Regions from separate parts of the Homo sapiens genome. Here region 2 is reported to be linked to region 1. The links are microRNA targets in miRTarBase. Many come from high-throughput screens and were not tested one by one. Region 1 holds a microRNA gene; the other region holds the end of a gene's coding sequence.
The links. Region 1 holds the annotated microRNA hsa-miR-214-3p (ACAGCAGGCACAGACAGGCAGU, at 4,171-4,192, opposite strand). A microRNA usually pairs through its seed, bases 2 to 8, with sites in the 3' UTR of a target mRNA and lowers its output. Matches are read on the target gene's strand: a 7mer-m8 pairs with bases 2 to 8, a 7mer-A1 pairs with bases 2 to 7 and ends in A, and an 8mer does both.

Region 2: miRTarBase lists SLIT3 as a target of hsa-miR-214-3p. Seed matches in the 3' UTR shown: 7mer-A1 at 5,635-5,641.

The regions. Positions count from the first base shown.
Region 1 is chr1:172,134,646-172,141,765 of GRCh38, forward strand. It overlaps MIR214 (microRNA 214), which reads right to left and starts at 4,262; the gene lies at 4,153-4,262. All of the region lies in intron 14 of DNM3 (dynamin 3), which reads left to right. It overlaps DNM3OS (DNM3 opposite strand/antisense RNA), which reads right to left. Exons shown (of 4, transcript NR_103486.1): 4 at 2,234-5,951. It overlaps MIR3120 (microRNA 3120), which reads left to right and starts at 4,163; the gene lies at 4,163-4,243.
Region 2 is chr5:168,660,210-168,667,326 of GRCh38, forward strand. SLIT3 (slit guidance ligand 3) reads right to left here. Exons shown (of 36, transcript NM_003062.4): 36 at 1,531-6,480. The coding sequence ends at 6,245. Among named protein-coding and RNA genes, the nearest start is that of SLIT3-AS2, 43 kb to the right of the region's middle.

The DNA of each region.
Region 1 (7,120 bases):
TTCTTATGAAGGCTCTTTCCCAATAAAGCAAACATACAAATAAATAGGAAAACCTAGCAGATGCTGATTACAGGCTAGGAAGAAAATAAAGCCAGTGATGAGTTGACATAGAGTGTCTGGGATAGAGGACACAGGTAGGGGGTACTTTACATTGGATGGTCAGAGAAGGTTTGTGTTAATGTTCTGAGGCAGGATTGAGCCTGATGAATTTAAGGAGGGTAATTAAGTCCAGTGTGACTGGAGCAAAAAGAGAAAGGCACTCTAAAGATGAGGATTTTGATATTAAGAATGATGAGAAGTTTTTTAAGCTGGAGAGTCACATGATAAGATTTGAATTCTTTACTGATTCCTTTGGTTGCCTTGTGGAGAATGGATTGGAAGAGGGCGAAACTGGACTGGGGAGTTACTAGAAAGCTATTGCTTTCTACATCTATTGTGGTCTGCATAGATAATGGTAGCTTGGGCTGGGATGAGTTGTTGGAATTTGATAAAAATGAACGGATTTAAGAGATGTTTTTGGAAGGTGAAAATTGACATGAACAACTCATCACACATGCTAAGAGTTGCAGCAAACTGTAAGCCTCTTGAGACCAGGAGACATTGTTTGTTCCCTGTCCTACCACCAGGGGACATAGCACTGATAGGAGACACTAACTAAATATTGATTGAATGAAGGTGTCATTGAGCAAATGAATGAATAAATGCAGCATAATAATTAATCACGTCCTGGCATATCAAGTGTCAAAATTAAATTATTGAATTACAGAATAAAATTACCACTAAAGGTAGATTGTCTTAAATTGTCTTAAATTTTGTTAATTTTCATCATTGAAGGTTAGTGTTTTTTTGTTTTTGTTTTTGTTTTTTGTTTGTTTGTTTGTTTTTTATCCTCTGACTATATATATGTGACTTCCTGGATTGAAAATCATTTAAACAGAAAATTAATTTCCCAATGTTGTTTTCATACATTGCCCATATATGTTGTACATTTTTGGAAAGGGATTTAGTAAAAAGCAAGATGTGAGAATAAAACAGAAACTGTCATTTCAAAAGTTTTTTGAAATGGATTTTTGATCTAGATAATTTTACATTAATACTTTAAAATCAGACTTGAAAAAAATGATGGCTTTTCTTTAACTTATGTCTAAAATGTGAATTTTAGGAGAATGGGAGACCCTGATTCAAGGAGAAAAGAGCCTTATTTTTCTTAAAACCAATGAGAAATTTGTTTTAAAAATACATAAATATGTAAATTTTAAGAGATAATTCAAATCTCTGAAGAAAGAGGACTGTTAATTTATGTATAATAAAAGCACTTAGTCAATATTTATTCTATTTCTATAGCCCAGTGTGTAAAGATTTAAATCATAATGAGCTACTCCTAGGCAAGCAGAATAATGCAACATAGGCGTTTCCAGTGGAAATCTGCTAACCTTATACTATTGAGGAAAACCCAACATCTGCATTGAAATAAGGACATTCTTTGGACTCTTAAGAAATTACAGGCCTCATTTTTGTGGGTTGAAGTGTTTGGATAACTTGATAAGGAGATTATATAATTCCCTTATAGGGATATTTACTTAGCATTGTTTTCATTTTGTAACAATAACAAATGACAAATGTAACTTCAGAAATAGGAAACAAAATGACAGTTATATCCCTGGATGATCAAAGTTGTGAGATCAAGAAGTTATAGAAATATTCAGCTCTCTTTCTAGTTTCACTTATACTTTTAAGATTGTGCATATTTCCTACCAGATCTGCACACTCCCTGTGGTGGAAAAGGTCAGCGTCGACCCTGTGAACACTGTTCACACTCCTTCGTTAAGTTATTTAGTTAGCCAAAACTTAGATATTTTCACAAAAGTCCCAGTAAATATTGAACTCTAATCCACTTATATTACTTAAAATTCTGCATGATCACAGTTGTATATTTTTTTACATACATAAACTATCTGATGTTATTCTTTTTTAATATAGGATTATTCATACAAATATTTCCATGTTCTGGTATTATCTAAAGATTTATAATTTTGAAAAAAAGAGTATTATTCAATAAACCATAATGGCCAATCCTATTCCAAATTTATTAAAAATGAGTTTAGATTCAAACCCACTCCCCTATATGCATTATTTGTCCCACTCAAAAGTTTATCCTGGAAGAGCAATATTATCCTTTATATTACCCTTTCCCAGAAGAGAAAAATTTTTAAATGTGCCTCATTTAATGACTTTAAAATACATACAAAACATTCTTTCAAGCATTTTTTTTGAAAATTGAGTAAAAAATGTTTAACAAAAAAGGTGTTAACTTTATGTTTTAAGGAAAAATATTGAAAATGTTATCCTGGAGTGCCTCACCTTAGGATGACTCTGCTGCCGTCCTAGCTTTCCCTTTGGAGTCTGAAGGACGGGTGTAGTCTCCTTAATGTTCTGGCTAGGTCATTGTCTCATTCTGGGAGCTGTCAAGCACTCTCCTGAGCCTTGCAGGGTCCAGTAGAATAATTCCATACGTGAACTCTCATAGGCAGCATTTGCAACAGGTGGTACAAGGCATTTAAGATTGGGTAGAACGATGTCGATATTCTGTGAGTAATTTTTATATTGTCTTCCTGTTTATATTCTACATTTTGTAAGTATTGTTTAGGACTTTATTTGCTAGTAATGGGACTTTTATTTAAGGCAAAAATCTGCATCGTGCAATGTATCTTGCAGAAGCAGAGATGAATTTTAGCAGATGACATATTGCCATAAGACAAGATTGTTTAAATGAGAGAAATTTAACTTTAATCATATTTGTGCTTTGTAGTTTTGCCCCATCATTCAGTTTTTTAATTAAAGAAACTATAATGTCAGGTTTGGTTAAAATATCATTGTCAGAAAATTTGAAACTCACTGGGATCTTAGCTTTAAGACTGAGACTTTCATTTTAAAAATAAAATAGCTGAATGAAAAATAGTTTGCTTTAGTTAAGAATACATACATAAAGTGTTTAATTGTTAAATGTGAAAAAAGTTTTGAGTAGCCTTGTGTTACATTTTTTAAGCTTGACCAGAATCTAAGAAAGATGAAAATTAATTTCAAATACTGAAGCTAAAACATGTTAATGAACTAAATAAAAGTTGACACATTTCTAATTTTATCCATCTTCCCACCTTTTACCCTTAAGTATTTAAAGTATTCATAGACAAAAGCCATCCCTTATCATTTCACTCCAGTTAACAGTGCATAAACTGAAGTTTGGATATTTTCTCAAAAGATGTGTCAAAATATACATTTCAAGTGCATTAACCACTTTCCTTATGCTTCTGAAGATAAATGAATTGCCTGAACATCTCAAGATCTTGAAAGTTTATAGTGATGGAAGCATAGGTTGCAAGTGAATGTGTTGGCCTTGTAAATTCTACTCCTAGAACTGTAGCATAAGCACCTTCTTAATTAAAGAATGACGCAGTCATAAATTTATGTATACCATGACGCGTGGAAGTATCAAAAATTTCAACTTTCCATATGTCAAAAGAGGAGAAACTATTATTTTAATATAGTTGAACACTAGTTGGAAATAGTAGTCTTTTCACTGTGTTTTGCCCAGACCCAGACTGGCAGAGTTAACCCAGACTGGCAGAGTTAACTCAAAGCACTTGATCCTTTGGAATACTCTTTTTCTCCCTTTTCTTTTCTCTGTCTTTCCACCCTATCCCCTTCCAAAAAAAAAAAAAAAAAAAAAAAATCATGACATAGAAAACCATACTTAGTTTATGGACAAGAATTCTTAGAATAATTTATTCTTTGTTAAGCATCAGACTGAAGTTATATTGTTTTGTTATATTGAGTTTTTATATCAATATAGGGTGCTGCAAAGCTGTGTACAATAAAGGTCAAGGGTAGTGATTTGCTGACAACAATTAGGAAAAGAGAACTATAGAATGCACAGGAACATTTTCAGAAATGGGTTTTATTATATTTCATAGGCACCACTCACTTTACTTTTGGTGGGTTTTAATACTTGAATCAAAATAAAATAATACATGAGTTAAGTATTAAACCAACAGATTAAAACCCCAGGCCCCCGAGCCCCTCATTTTGGTTGTAGCTCTTGGTGTAGATGCTATGGTGTGAGGGCTGCTTTCTTTCAATGGCTGGTTGTCATTCAGGCTGGGTTGTCATGTGACTGCCTGTCTGTGCCTGCTGTACAGGTGAGCGGATGTTCTGCACAGCAAGTGTAGACAGGCAGACACATGACAACTCTGTCCAGCCAGGCCCTTGGTTCCTTCAGGTTTCCTTTGCTCATAGACAGATACAATCAGCCTGTTTTCCAGATTTGGTGATTTTGGAGAGTAAGGGGAAAGGGAGAAAAATACACAATATAATTAAACATTAAAACATTATGGAACTAAAAACAAGTTAGACTTTTGACTTTATTCAGAAAGTACATTTATACATTTGTTCCAAATGTGCTAACATGGATAATTTGCGTAACAGAAAACTCACATTAAAATTTTAAGGAAAAAAAGAGATTAAACACAAGGTTTATTCTTAAGTCCAATTCATATTATTACTGGCCCACATGTAGTCAGAGTTCAGCGTAATTGAACCAGATGTTTTTCCTCTTTGCAAAAAACTGCATATTTTAATACTGAAGTTAAAGATAAAAACTATGTTTATGCATGTTTCTTTTAGTAGATAAGTACCATAACCTTGTCCATGAAAAAGAAAATTATCATTTACATGGAAACAGCAGCCCTTTTCAAAATAATTAATGAGCCTAATTTATTTGGCAACCCAAGTTGCTGACTTTGGTATTTGATGCTCTGATAATAGGATCCTACAAGGGAATATGTTTTTACCAATTATATGTGAAACAACAGGAACCTATTTAAATGTCTCATTTTCCTTTTAAATGCAAAGTTTATAACTGTGGATGTGAAATCAAATTAAAGGCAGTTGTGAGCTTAAGTTATCCACCTCTTAATTAACTATAGGGCCATGCTGTGAATCAAAAGGGTACAAACTGGAAGGCTGTTACTCACAGTGATGCTCAGAATGTGTTTTGGATATAGTTAGTGCAATATAGTTACAAAATAGTACTTAAGAAAAGGCAGAAAAGGCAAATTCATTTCATATCCAAAAAATTAAAACCAGATCCTTTGAAAATTTTTCTTATAATTTATATGAGCTAATAGTGTTAAATATGCAGATATAAAATTTAATTCTGGTGAGTTGAGAGTAATTCTATTTTAATATCAATTATCAATTCACATCTTTAGAAGTATTAAGCAAATTCCCCTCCCCTTTTAAAAACAAAAATATCCAAATAGTCAAAATTCCAGTAAGTAGGACTTCTTAAAAAACACAGCACCAAAAAAACACAGTATTGTCCAAGGATTGTATAATTAGACATTTTCTCAAAGAACTTTAAGAAAAACAAACAGTTTGTGATTTATCTTTAATTGTAAAATTCTGAGAAAATAGCAAATAGAAACTTAATGGAAAGCAAAATAGTTTTAGATACTGAGAAAATTACAATTTTCTACAAATCTGGACTTTTATGCAGTGATTAGGTAAGGTAATGTTTTAACAAAAGCTAATAAGTGCCATTTTCTGTGTATTTATGTAATTTCAAGAAAACAAATTTCCGATTCTGTTTCGGCCATCACTTTCGAGTAAAGGAACTTTTTTTTTTTCTTGACAGAATCAAAAACATGAGTAAACTTGGCTGTTATTTAAATAATTACAAGGTTAGAGTATGCCAAAAACCAGTGCCTTAAAATACTATTGTGTTATTGTTGCTGCATTCAGTGCAACAGAAAGTAATTATAGAGTGATTCACTTACAAAGAGTATATTGGTGGAAATTAAAAATTACTATAATTCTTTATAACTTTTCCTCTCTCTCCCATAAATAATTTGATCCAGTTAACTCTGCTCAATTAAAGGAATGATGCATGCAACCTGAAAAAATAAAAAGAAATATTTGTGAGTTTGTATGTTATGCTTTAATATAAAACAGTTTTATTAAGGCAAGATATAAAAATTTTTTGAGCCAGAAAAACCACAACAGTTTTTCAGGGGAAAAAAAAAATCTTGCTGAAAACAATTGTTCTATTCATAAGGCTTTTGGACAATTTATGTTTCTGATAGATTTTTAAAACACACTTACAGTAACTATGTGACATATGCACACTTCATTGTTATGTTGAACCTGCCCCTAAACTTGTTAAAAAGATGAAAGACTGAAAACCATATTGACCTTTTTTTAATCTCCCAAATTATAGGTTGAATATTAGTTTATTATTACTTAAAATACTAGCTAAAACATAAAAGAGCTATTTGTATTATTATCATACCATGTAATTTTTAGTGTGGTTATTACACCTTGTTTTCTTTTTGTCTTTTATTTCTTAAGGAAAAAAATGTAAGAAAAGAATTGTCTTCTAAGTCTTCTGTAGTGAAATTAAACCAAAGCAACTCCAGGAAACTGGCTGTCACGCTAAGTCAAAAAATTCAAAATGAAGATTTAATTATTTTTCCTAATTTACTTCGTTATCTCTAACTATTAAAACTGATAAAAATTATTTGTAAGAGACCTTTGAAAATGAGTAAATATTTATTTCTACTTAATTTACAGAACATGAAAGTAAGAAGGGATTTGAAGTAAGAAAGTTTCTATCTTAACTCAGGAATTTCCTGTCTCAGGTTAAAGCCTGACCTTCTAGTTATTTTAAGCCAGGATTTCTGAGTGATGGTCTCTTAGTTATTATTTTGACGTTATTGTGATGGGTGGGCTATTCTCCTTAGAGCAGAGTAAAGTGCATTGTTTATAAAGAGCAGATCCCTTACAGAGTAAGTGAAAGCTTTGGCGTCTCTTTACCGAGCATGGATGCTTGTGGATGAGTGAATTTTTTCACATTACCAAGTTGTACTTTTTATATCTTATAACAGCTTAAGACTTCAACCAAAAAAGTGGGGAGAATTCTTTCGTTAGGATTTTTATGCCTAAACTGTTTCCCACAGAGTGAAATACATGGGTGGTCTGTAGGCGAGAGGTGGGGGTAGATAGTATATTTTGGTCTTTTACAAACATAAACATATTATCTGGGCCGAAAGCCCGAATGCCAAGC
Region 2 (7,117 bases), not on the chromosome of region 1:
AGCACTATGAACATCTTGGGCAGGATAATTCTTTGTTGTCAAGGAGCTGTCCTGTATATTGTAGGATGTTTAGCAGCACCCCTGGTCTCTACCTACTAGATGCTAATAGCACCCTGTGTCCCAGTTATACAATCAAAAATATCTGCAGACACTGCCAGATGTCTCCTGGGTGGGGTCAACACCTCTCCCAGTTGAGAACCTCTGCTATCGATTGATATAATAGGGAATTTGAGATAGAGGGATACACATCTAGGTCCCAAACCTGGGAGGAGGGGCTCCTGGCATAAACATGGGAGATGGACACTGTAGGTTTCTTGGCAGTAGCTCCTCCTGGCAGGAAAATCCAGGCTGTCTGACATGGTGTGTGTCAGTGCAGAATCCACTCCCTACCTATTTCAGATAAATGCACACTAAAATGTATAAAACTATACAAGGGCATCTTTGCTGGAGGCTTAGGGCCCCCAGTCAGTGTGACCTTGTCTTGCTCAGGGAGACCTGGGGGAAGAAGGAACAACCGGCTGGGGGCCACAGAGTCTAGCCCCTTTTTTAGCACCTGGTGCATCTGCTGCCCACTAGTGTCTTGCTCTCAGAGGGGTCTCCACAGGGCAGATGGAAGGCCATCTGCCAGGGAAGTGAGGATGACCTCCAGCCAGCCAGTGGCAGCCTCCAGACCCTTAGCAATCCTCCTTCTAAAAGTGCATAGCCCCTTGAGGATGCCCCAGGGCTGAGAGGCTGAGAGCCCTGCTTGCCCCTCCCCTCCCTCTCATGCTGTCTTGCCCAGGCCATCCTCTCTGGCTTCCTAAGTTGCTCGGGCTGCCTGCCTCCCTCGGATGACACCCACACAAAGCAAATATCTAGTGAGTACCGCAGGGCCAGGTTACTTCCCCTTCCATTTCTTGGTATTTGCCCCACCCCATGTCCCAATTCCTTAGGGAGGCCTTCTTGACCTCACTGCATGAAGCACCCACCCAGCTATTCTGGAGTGTCTCCTCTTCTTTATTTGTGGAAGTGAACTTATCACTATCGGGTGTTATCTTTATTTGTTGATTGGCACAAACCCCCTCAGTTAAACTCCAGGAGAACAAGGACTTGGTCTTGATCATCTTTGGAGTCCTCAAAGCGTAGAACAGTACCTGGCACATAGTAGATGCTCAATAAATACTTGTTGAAGGAACTGATAAAGGAGAAATTTAATTAGGCATTGGAGTCCTATAAGGAGGAATATTCCTTCACATATCAGTAGGGTGTTCTCTTCCTCTGAACTGTAGTGGCTTTCTTCCCCATGACCCTTGGCACCTTCTGTGGCCATAGGGACCACATCCCCTGCTGACCCTAAGCTGTGTGTTGGGTCGTCTCTTCAATGGTTCTGGTGAACTCTGGATCCATTTTTCTTACTTCATGATCCAAGAAACTGATTCTTTGATCTAATTCCACACCAGACTTTCCCCAGACCCCATGAATGCAGTCATCTTTGTTCCAGGGGGTTTGAAAATCAGGGGTAAAAATAAAGCAGACACCGTGGAGCAGGGCTGAGTTATGGTAGTCATGAGAGCATCTGATAGCTCCTCTGTGACTCATCCATTTATTTTAATGACATCTGAATATGACAGTATATTGAAAAAAGAATGCATGTTATTTATTCCATACTGGGGAAGTGCCACTATAACATTGTTTTAAAAAATCTTCAAAAATTTCCTATTAGAACCTATCATTGAATTAGAAAAGCAAGCTTTGCCAAATGCCTGATTATGCCTTTACTGGTCCTGCTAGCTGGCATGTTTCACCAACTTTTCCCTAGTGTTTCCTTTGGCACTGTTGAGCCCACACTACAAAACATGAACAAGTCCCACAAAACCACACTATGCCCTCTGCTTCCCCATCATGTGGGGACCATCTGCCTGGACATCCACTGTGGGGTAGCAGGAAGAACTTTGGCCTGGGTGGACACATGGGGTTAATTATCTGTGTGTCTTTGGTCTATGATCACCGCATTCTTCCATTTGTTCGACCCTCAGTTTTCCTGCCTACCAGTAATGCCCTATGACTCCTCCAGCTCTGGTATCTGGGATCTTGAGTCTGAGGGGCAGGTCACTTGTTGCTATGGGCTTCTGCTCCCAGCAAAGGCAGTGGGTGACTGCTTGACTTTAGGGTTCAGTCTGGCAATAGCTTTGTTTCTGGTGAAGGGAAAGGTTAGATCATCCTGGTCCTGGCCTTTCCTGAAGGTCACCCTGGGGCTCTTTTCCCCCACCTTTTTTTTCCCTCTGAGCTTGGGAGTTATCCCTCTTCTTGCCCTTCTTCTCATCTTTTTGAAGCATCAGACTTGAGTTCCTTGCTATGAGATTGAAAAGGCAAAACTGTCTTCTAACAAGGGCCTTTTGGCATGTCCATAACAGCAACAACAACAGTAATAATAACAACAGCATCTTACATTTAAGGTTTTTAGTTTACACTTTACAAAGAACTTTTAAATACATAATCTCATCGGCCATCGTACGGCCCCTTGGCTGAGTTGAAGAGAACTTCTTTTCCCTTTCCTGAATCCTGCTCAGGGGGGACACAGCTTGAGCGGCCTCTTCTGCCCACGTACATTGCCACACAAACACTGAACCACACTTTTTCAGGAGCAAATTAACTGAACTCTTCCTGCCTCATGGAATGTCCTGTTTCTAGAATGTGACTGCTCAAGGAGAGAGCGTTTTAATCATCATTTGTTAGAGGAGCCTCATTTCGGGGAGAATTTTCTTAATGGTCCTTGCATTTGGCATTTCTTAAAGTCAGGGCTTCCAAACTTGAGGGAGAAGGCTCAAAATTATAAGGGACAGACCTGGCCCTTTTGCTGTCTTGGTTGATGGGGGCTGGATTCAGGATTGGGCCCAGGGTGATGAGCAGAGGGAGGTCTCAGGTTCCTTGGGGAGGCAGAGGGAAAGCTGGCAGCCTGGTGACTCCTCCCAGGAAGCCAGTGACCCTCGGTGGGGCTCTTGAGATGGCAGGCTGAGTAGGCTCTGGGCTGGGTGGGGAGAGGCTAGCAGGGGCATTGGTGGTGGGATAAGGCTCAGATCCACCTGCCTAGGGGGAGAGGGGGGATGGGGCAATGGAGGTGGGGATGGGGAAATGGAGGTTGGGAAGGGTGTTGGGCAGATCCCAGGATCCTCTTCAAGAGCAGAGCTTCTAAGCTACCATAGACATTTGTGATCCATCTGGCCGGCAGTGTTTTCTAGCCACAGAGTAAACCACAGGGAGCTCTCAAGTCCATTTTGGGTGACAGCTCTGTCTCCTCTTTCAGGCCTTTATGCTGCCACAGCTCTCTTCCTAAACCAGAGCTTGTCTTGCTCTTCCCTTCCTCAAACAACCCTGCTGGCACCTGTGGCCCAGTTTAGCATGCACAGCTCTTTGTGGTCAAAACCCTACCTTCCTACCTACCCCATTTCTCTCTGCTCCTCAGTGTGCTTCCCATACTCTTGCCACCCTAGATTTTGACTCTTCCCCAAACAAGCCAGGCCTGGCCATATCTCATTGCTTTTTAAAAGGCCACTCCCAGGAAAGTTCAATTCCCTTTCTCACTCTGGCAAACTCCTATTCATCCTTAAAGACCTAGGACTAGAAGTTCCCTCCTCTGGACAGCCACTTCCATTGCTTGTATTGCCACTTAAGAGCTCCTTGTGTAATAAGGCAATTGTCCATTTTTATGACTGTTTTTGTCACAGGCTGTAGGATCCTCAAAGGCAGGATGTGTTTCTTTCCCATGAGAAGCAGGATGGTTTAGTGGTTGAGTGAGCAAGTTCTGGAGTCAGACAGCCTGGGCCCAGATCCTGGCTCTACGGTTTATTAGACATTTACTCTTGGGCAAGTTCTTTAACTTCTCTGTGTCTCAGTCTACTCAACTGTAAAATGAGTTAATAGTGTTTTAACTACATGGTTGTTTCAATAATTAAATGAATATATATCTATTTCACAATTAGAGTGGTATCTGATGTATAATAAAGTACTAAATAAATCTGCTATTATAATAATGTTTGAAACAGGCTGAGCATAGTGGCTCACACCTGTAATCCCAGCATTTTGGGAGACTGAGGCAGGAAGATGGCTTGAGCCTAGGAGGTTGAGGCTGCGGTGAGCTATGATCGAACCACTCTACTCCAGCCTGGGTGACAAAGCAAGACCTTGTCTCTAATGACAACAAAAAACAAAGCCATCATAAGGCACAGTACCTGGAACATAATGGAGATTTACATGCACATTTTTAGATAAATTCCTCAGCTATATCCCTCTCTCCCTTCTCTTCATCCCCTCCATCCCTTCCTTCTTTCCTTCCTTCCTTCTTCCAGTTGCCTCGTTTTCCTCCATCTTCCTTTCTTTTCTTTCTCCCTTCATTATTCCCTGCGTCTTTGGCCCACCATTGGTACTCACAGATCAACTAGGCTCCTCTAGGGAACCTGAGGGCTGAAAGGTCCAATGAATTCCAAACTCTTCTCCCTGAAACTCCTACAGTGGAAGCTCCTGGGGGAAGGAGGGATGGATGATAAGAGCCAGGGAGTTGGTGTGAACAGCTGAGCCCTGGAAGATATGTGGCTAACCTGATGGGGTGGAAGGGGGCAAATGGGAGTGAGGGAGGGAGAGACATGGAAAGAAACAGGGGCAGGGAAGTCCCCTTCAGGAATGGAGGCAGAGGCTGGATAGGCTGCCCTTGGTCACTTTCCCTAGATGCATAAGCCCTGGTCTCCAGAATCTTTCCAGATACTGCGGAGGGAGAAGGAGTGAGCAAGGCAGAACAAGAGCAGGAAAAAACATCATATTATTTCCTTTTCCGGCAGGGCTGCTCTGATGGATTTAAGCCGCCTGAATCACCTGTGCTCACCCATTCTAGAGGAAGAATCTCAAGCTTTGGGTCTGGACTTCTGGTCTGGCTCCTCCACTTATCTGGTGTGTGGCTTAAGGCAAGTTCCAGAGCCTGTGAGGGCCTAAACTTCCTTCTTAGTGAACCCAGCTCTACTCCCTTATCCTTCCCAGGGAGGCAGGGGTTGCATAGATAAAATAAGGTAAAGTTTGGATATGCATTGGAAAGTGTCACAGATGGGCAAGGAGTCTCTATCGTCATGCTGGTGACCTGGAGGATCAGGTGGCAGAGGCCTGTCTTACAACAAGAGCCTCCAAGAACCTTCCAGAGTTGGACATCTAGCGCTGTGGGCAGACTTGACTTGGCTCCCAGCCTTCCGCTTCCAAGAAGGGCTGACTACCTTCTCTACTGGGATACATTCCAATGAAAAATTACCTGGAAGGAGGAGAGAGGGCCAGTGCATGGGTCCTGAGGAGACACCATGATATTCTCTTCCCTCGCCTCCTCTAGGAAGACCCCTCTCCTGGGGAGGAGCAGGAAAAATAGCAGCTGTTTTAAAATTTGGTAAGACAGTTCCAAATGACACCTGTAGCAGACTTCAATAGTCAGTCCTCGATTGGAAGCCAGGGCCAGCCAGGAAGGAGAAGAGGGGTCCCCCAGTGGGTTCAGATACGGAAGCCAGGGCCACCCAGGAAGGAGAAGAGGGGTCCCCCAGTGGGTTCAGATACCCTGAAGGGGGGTCTGGGACAGACAGGGACAGCAATATTTTTGAGTGGCAGTGAGACTGAGAAGGCCAGGGCTCAGCAGCTTTTCCTGGAAGAACTGGGCATTTTGGGCACTGACATCCAGGACTCCGAAAAGCTGGGTAATTTTAGGGGAGGAAAAATAAAAGGGAGTTAAAAAACAAGAAACAAAGGTCTTTTCCTTCTCTCTCTTCCTCTTATTCCTTTTTCTGATCTCAATGAGCAGCTCTTGGTCTACTGCCGACATAATACCGTTTCATAAACATGAAAACATCTTCCTCCTTCCTCAGACAGGCTATCATTCTTTATTCTTATCCTTTTGTTTTAAAGCATTTTTATTAGTCTATTTTTTTCTTAAATTTTTAAACAGCTATTTTTAAAAACACAACAAATACACAACACAAAACTTGGTAAAAATAACTCACTATATGGTACATATACGCAGATGGTGTAATATATTTATATAATAAAAGATGAAAATAGTCACTTTCCATAATAAAAATAAGTTCTATTTTTTGTTTATTTTACAATATACTTAATATTCTCTTCTTCTTTACCTTCCTCTCCAGCTTCATTTCCTTCATGCTGAATCACCAGGGGGTCCCACATGGCTGTCCCAACTCCATCAAGCTGGAGTCCGAGAGGTGGCAGGCAGGCGGGCAGGGGCTTAGGAACACGCGAGGCAGCCGCACTCTAAGTGTCTCTCCACCTCTTCTACAAACGAGGAGCCGTCCGTGCACTGGAAGACGTATTTCCGCCGCTTGCTGCGGGTGGGCTGGCAGCACTGGGGCCCACAGCCCCCACGACATTCCATGATGGGCACCTTGGAGGCTGTGGCACATGATGCATAACCTTTCTGGCGGCGGATCACCTCTCGGACTACTTGTCCCAGGCACGGATTCTCTGCAGAGGGCATAGAAGTCAGGGCATTGGTGGTCTAGGTGGCCAGCAGGACCATGAGCAGTTCCCAGGTAGGCTGCTTTGAAATACTTGTGCTCTGAAGACTGTAAGAATTTATTCACTCATCCATCTGCCTACCCTCCCCTCCATCCACCCATCTATTTTACAAACAGGTGCCTTTCCTGTACCAGGCTCTCTGACAGGCTTACACCTAAGCCGTGAGGATATAATGATGACAAAAGCAGGCTTGGTCCCTTCCTTCAAGAAACCTAAAGTCAAAACTAAAACTAGATGACGCAAACTGATAGACTGTGGGCCAAATCCTGACCCCAGACCAATTTGGATCACCCTACATGTGCCTAAAAATTAATTAAATGTCAACATTCAAAAAGCAGGAGATTTCACCTGAAAATCTGGATTTCTGCCTTCCTTGAAAACAAGGAGGTCTGGCAGAGCTGAGCCTGCAACCCTGCACTGCAGTGATGGCTGAAGCTGAGTGCTTTAGATGGGGCAGGCAATCTCCAGTTTGCCCCAGTCACTACCACTCCCAATAGTCTGTCTCTCTTGGCCTAGAGTCTAGATACTATTTAAGTGAATATATTTAATAAAGAAACTGAGGTAGATGCTATAAAGAAAGGGA